2 separate regions of the Homo sapiens genome follow, and region 1 is linked to region 2. The links come from fine-mapping of genetic effects on gene expression. A gene starts in region 2. The other region holds a variant in brackets. All regions are shown on one strand. Distances are between the middles of the regions. Region 1 overlaps TMEM169 (transmembrane protein 169). Region 2 holds the start of XRCC5 (X-ray repair cross complementing 5).

Evidence for each region. PIP is the estimated chance that this variant, and not a neighbour inherited with it, causes the effect. A credible set is the group of variants that fine-mapping cannot tell apart.
Region 1: its variant is the best candidate, but not a certain one, in a credible set for the expression of XRCC5 in hippocampus (GTEx, PIP 0.56).

The regions. Positions count from the first base shown.
Region 1 is chr2:216,085,906-216,088,821 of GRCh38, forward strand. The region is part of intron 1 of TMEM169 (transmembrane protein 169); the gene reads left to right. Among named protein-coding and RNA genes, the nearest start is that of TMEM169, 5.4 kb to the left of the region's middle. The variant A/AG (reference allele first, on the strand shown) is at 1,273.
Region 2 is chr2:216,107,604-216,110,504 of GRCh38, forward strand. XRCC5 (X-ray repair cross complementing 5) reads left to right here and starts at 1,745. Exons shown (of 21, transcript NM_021141.4): 1 at 1,745-1,854. The coding sequence starts at 1,834. RefSeq lists an enhancer at 1,469-2,090.

The sequences.
Region 1 (2,916 bases), 22 kb before region 2:
TGGATAATTTTTTTCAAGAGTGGCTTAAAAGCAGTTATTCTAAGCACGAGTTCCAGAGTATGAGCATGTTCTTAAAAACCTGTTTTCCCTCCTACAATGACCAAGAGTACAGAGCTAATGGTTGATTGAAGCTAACACTCTGTAATATCACATTTGTAAGAATCTTTTTTTTTTTCTGAGGCAGAGTCTCACTCTGTTGCCCCGGCTGGAGTGCGGTGGTGTGATCTTGGCTCACTGCAACCTCTGCCTCCCGGGTTCAAGCGATTCTCCTACCTCAGCCTCCGGAGTAGCTGAGATTACAGGTGTGTGCCACCATGCCTGGCTAATTTTTGTATTTTTAGTAGAGGGGGTTTCACCATGTTGGCCAAGTTGGTCTCAAACTCCTGATCTCAAGTGATCCACCTGCCTCGGCCTCCCTAAGTGCTGGAATTACAGGCATGAGCCACCGTGACCAGCCTGTTAATAATCTTTAGACTGGAAGTGGAAGTGGAAGATGGGCACAGCTTAACTGCCAGAGAAAAGAACAAAGTCCTCTCTCTTCTCTCAAGTCTATTGATTAAAGCCTTGGAAATTGGGTAAAATTTTCTTTTAACCTCTCTCTTGTGAAATCTAAAAGGAAGGAGAAATGTTTAGAACCTGCTTCTCAGATCAAATACTTACAGCATAATAAAGTATACAAAAATGGGGAAGAGAATCAAGCCTTTCTTTCTTAACAGTTGTTTATGTCATATTTCTGGTAAGACATTTTCTCTTCTGTGTCCTATGAAGTCAACAAGTACATACTGACTTTGTACTACATGTCCAGCCCTGGGGTTTTCCCATTGGTGGTTAAGAAGAAGAGTAAGACAGTTCCTAAACTCTAGAAGTTTGTTATCTACCTAGAAAGATGAATGAAAACTCATGATGCCATCTATAATCTATACAATGATATGAAATGCTGCATAATTAAGTATTAAGTGTATGGTTCAGATGGCAAATGCTATTAAATTACAAATAGAAGGAGGCAAAAGAAAGGGAATAGAAACTAATATTTATGAAGTGTCAGTCACATATTAGGCATTTTATACTGGGCCATTCATTGAATTCTCACCACACACCTGCAACACAGGGTTAGGGTGGGAGGAGAGGACGTGGGGGCTGGGGTAGTCACAGAAGGGGACGTGAGCGAATGAGTCTGTCTTGAGCCAGGCTTGAAAGATGTGGAGAAGCGTGACAAAGATGAAGAAACCAACATAAGCACATGTGTTGAGTAGTCACGTTGCAGGAAAGGGA[A/AG]GGGGAAAATTGCTACTGAATCCTAGGGTGGGGTGCAAATACGGAGAGCCTCAAACACCAGACAGGCCTTCAGATATATTTTAGTCAGTAATGGCAAGACAAAATAAAAATATTGTTTTGTTTTGTTTATTAATCACCATTAATATGGTAAAAAATGGTAGAGGAATGTCTTCCATTTTAGAATGTCTTCCAGTTTAGAGGAAGTAGTATGAAGGCTGTATTCTGGCATATGGTGGTAGTAGAAATTCAAATGAACAAATTAACAAAAAGATTTCATAGGAATGACTAGCAGGACTTAGAGACTAATTATTATTAGGTATATGGAAATATGTCCTTAATATAGGAAATGGGTTCATCAAAGAACATTCTAGAAGTTTATAGATCTTTGCATAAATGTTGGCGGGTAGTATGGCACAATGAAAATAACATGGGCTTTGAAATTAGCAAACCTGGGTGTCAGTTCCAGTCCCACCACTATACTAGCTATGTAAGCTTGAGCAAATTTCTCCTCTAAATGGGAATAATAAAGGTACCTACTTCACTGGTTTGCTGTGAATATTGAACAATACGATTATTGTAAAGTACTTAGAGCAGCACTTGGCACACAATAAACATCCAATAAGTTTCTGTTGTTACTATTATTCAGTCCAAGTGTCCTCTTCTGCAAAATAATACTTGCTTCATAAAATTGTTGTACCTAGGCTGGTATGGTGGCTCACACCTGTAATCCCAGCACTTTGGGAGGCCGAGGCAGATGGATCACTTGAGGTCAGGAGTTGGAGACTAGCCTGGCCAACATGGTGAAACCCTGTCTGTACTAAAAGTACAAAAATTAATTGCACATGGTGGTGTATGCCTGTGGTCCCAGCTACTCAGGAGGCAGAGGCACGAAAATCGCTTGAACCTGGAGGCTGAGGTTGCAGTGAGCTGACATTGCACAACTGCACTCCAGCCTGGGTGACCAAGCGAGACTCTGTCTCAAAAAAAAAAAAAACAAACAGGCCGGGTGCAGTGGCTCACGCCTGTAATCCCAGCACTTTGGGAGACCGAGGCGGGCAGATCACAAGGTCAGGAGATCGAGACCATCCTGGCTAACACGGTGAAACCCCGTCTCTACTAAAAAAGAAATACAAAAAATTAGCCGGGCGTGGTGGTGGGCGCCTGTAGTCCCAGCTACTCAAGAGGCTGAGGCAGGAGAATGGCGTGAACCCGGGAGGCGGAGCTTGCAGTGGGCTGAGATCACGCCACTACACTCCAGCTTGGGCGACAGAGCGAGACTCCGTCTCAAAACAAACAAACAAACAGACAAAAATTGTTGTACCTAGAACAACTATGCAATATATAGCACATAGTGTTGCTTAATAAATATTTACTGAAGCTGGGCACAGTTGCACATGACTGTAGTCCCAGCTACTCAGGAGGCTGAGGTGAGAGGATTGCTTGAGCCTAGGAGTTCAAGTCAAGCCTGGGCAACATAGAAAGACCCCATCTCTAAAAATAAATGAATACGTAAATATTTTTTGAATGTGTAATTCAGTGAGATAATGCATGTACTGTATAATCAACACAGAACCTACCAAATTACACAATCGGTAAATTCCATAAATGTTGTGGTGTTTCCTTCTTTATCCCTTTCTCCTTTCC
Region 2 (2,901 bases):
CGGCCGAGCGACACCCTGTCTGTTTCTTTCCTTTTCTCTCTCTCTCTAGCTCTGGATCGTACAAGAAGGGAGACAAGGACCACTGACAAGATATGGTATGTGATACTAATCAGATTTGGCTTCTTTCTGTCCTGCTTCACCAGAGGCTGGACTCTCCTTGTTTCAGTTTCTCCGCTTTCCACAGATAAATCTTTTGTTTCCCGGATAGCCACTTGGCCTGTTTGCCCTTTGCTCCCATTTTTCCTTGTTTGCTTCTTTGTCTGAAAATTTATGCTGTCCTGCTGCCTCCGCTGGGCTTCGTTTCCACCTTTGCTGGAGGAGATTTAGCTGACAACCTCACAGATCTTCCCCGCCCCTTCTGCCGAGCTGATCTTTCTCTTGGAAATCTTACCCGCAGGGAAGGGCGAGTGTCCGTGCCTGCCTGCCTGCCTGCTGCAGCCCGCGCAAAGCTGAGCGGCCAGGGCGCTGCTGTTCCTTTAAAGTATTATTAAAAATAATATTTCAGCTTTTAAGTAACTCCTTGAGTTTGAATCAAAAGCTGGAAGAACCTCCTGGGCTCTATGAGCACCTCTGAATATGTCTGACTCTACATTCTAGAGGCTTCAATGTATTTATAATTTTGGCTCATAGATTCTCCACATCTTTTCAGCTTCAATTCTTGCTTTTCCCAGAAACAATTTTCAAGCAGGAGAGAATATTGATTGGACTTGATTTTCTCAGTTTGGGCAGAGGTTTGCAGACACTTTGCAGGTTGCCAGACCCTTCGTCCAGCCACCTGTCAGCTGGGGGTCATATGGTATAGAAAGCAGTCATTTCTATGCAAGGTACTGCTTGGGCCTGCCTCCCTCAAAGGGGTAGGGGATGCGGGCTGGACAAAGGGCTCGTGATCAAGTAAAGCACTGTGATGACAGCTGCTATTTCTATATCTCCCTAGACTTGTCTTCTAAATTAAACCTTGACTCCTCCCTTCCAAGCTGGAGCCACTGCTAACTACTGGGAGAGCCTTAGCAGATAAAGTCTCATGCCTCCAGGCGTTTGTGCATCCCATTTTCTCTGCAGAGTAGAATCTCCCTTCTACTTTTGTGCTCCTGGGGACGTCCTACTCTTCTTCCCCAGTTGGCTCTAAGGTTATCACATCGGTGAAGTGTTTCATTATCACTTTTTAGAAGAAACTGAGTCTTTTAGAGAAGTTAAGTGACTTTCTGCATTCATACTCATACTCAAGAAAATCTAACTCCACAATAACCAAAAATAAAAAGTAGAAAAAAACCCACAAGTGATGAGAAAAAAAAAAATCAAAAGTTATAAAAAATAAATGAAAAAATGAAATTAAAGGAAAAAAGATTTTTTAAAAAAGTAAAAAAAAGAAAAGAAATCTAACTCCAGAGCTCTGACACAAAATGCCTTAGGTGTTATTCTCAATGAGAGAAAAGGGACGTGAATCTTTAAGTGATTAAGTGAATCTTTAAGTAAATCTGTCGTACTAGCGTTTCAGGCGGCTCAAACACCACACGCTCCCGACTACGGCGGAATGGAGAGAATGTGCGCATGCTCGGCGGGAATCTGCGCATGCTCGGCGGGAATCTGCGCATGCTCGGAGAGAATCTGCGCATGCTCGGCCGGAATCTGCGCGAGCTCGGCGGGAATCTGCGCAAGCTCGGCGGGAATCTGCGCATGCTCAGAGTTCCGGGGCACGGTTTCCCCGCCCCTTTCAGGCCTAGCAGGAAACGAAGCGGCTCTTTCCGCTATCTGCCGCTTGTCCACCGGAAGCGAGTTGCGACACGGCAGGTTCCCGCCCGGAAGAAGCGACCAAAGCGCCTGAGGACCGGCAACATGGTGCGGTCGGGGAATAAGGTATAAAGAAAGCCATGGACTTGGGCTTTACCCGGACTGGGGATCCGGAGAGGGTGGTTCGGAAGCAGGAATCGTGGGATCGCGGTCAAGACAAAGAATGGGGCAAGAGAAGATCATGGTGGTGGGCTCAGTCAGGAGGGCCGGGACCGAGGGATGCGCTATGAGAAAAGCTGGAGATTTGGGGCTCCAAGACCTGAATTTGAGCCTCGCTGACTCCACCTCTTCCATTACCCACCCATCCCATCCCTCTTCTCCCTCTCTACCTGCTCTTTGTCTCACCTGCCTCCCCACCCGCCTCCCCTCTCTCTCTCTTTATCCCATTCCACTCCCTAGCCCCACTTCCTCTATTACTTCCGAGCCTGGGTTCTTAAGATCTCTATGAGAATGAAAATTAGCTGTGATAAAGCAACTATCCCACAGGGCTTGTTGTAAAACTTAAGAGAGGGACTATCTGTGACTAAAATAACTTAAACTGTAAAGCGTCGTATTATTAGCTTTATAATAACGTAGTATCCCGCATTTATTGAAAGCCCACTCTGTGAGGGACGGATCTAAACCTTTTATTCTTATCTCATTTAATCTTCACAACCCCTTGAAGTGAAAACTATTTATCCCCATTTTGCAAGTGGGAAAACCGAGGAATAAAGAACTGTGGGCTTTTCCTGGTGAAATCCGGATTTGAATCCAAGCTGTCTGGTTTCAGGGCCCTGGAGAACCCCTGTGTTGCTAGAAATCTATGACCATTGGTGTCCCAGATCAGTAACAGAAATTACAATGAATTTTAAAGTGATTTTTTTTTTTCAACATAAAAGAGTGGTAGTTGTCTCTGAAGGGTCACTAGAGGGAGATGTGGTTCCAGGGATTAATGAATTTATTCAATACAGATAAACAAGATACGAGTTTGAGCAACTGATCCCTAGTTCCCTCAACTCCTCATTGAGAAATGTTGATTAAAACGATCATGAACTTTTAATAATGCCACTCACCTCCTTTTTTCGTCCTCTTTCAGCTGCTGAAAACTTTGTAGCTCTAGTGGAGGAGCTGTTT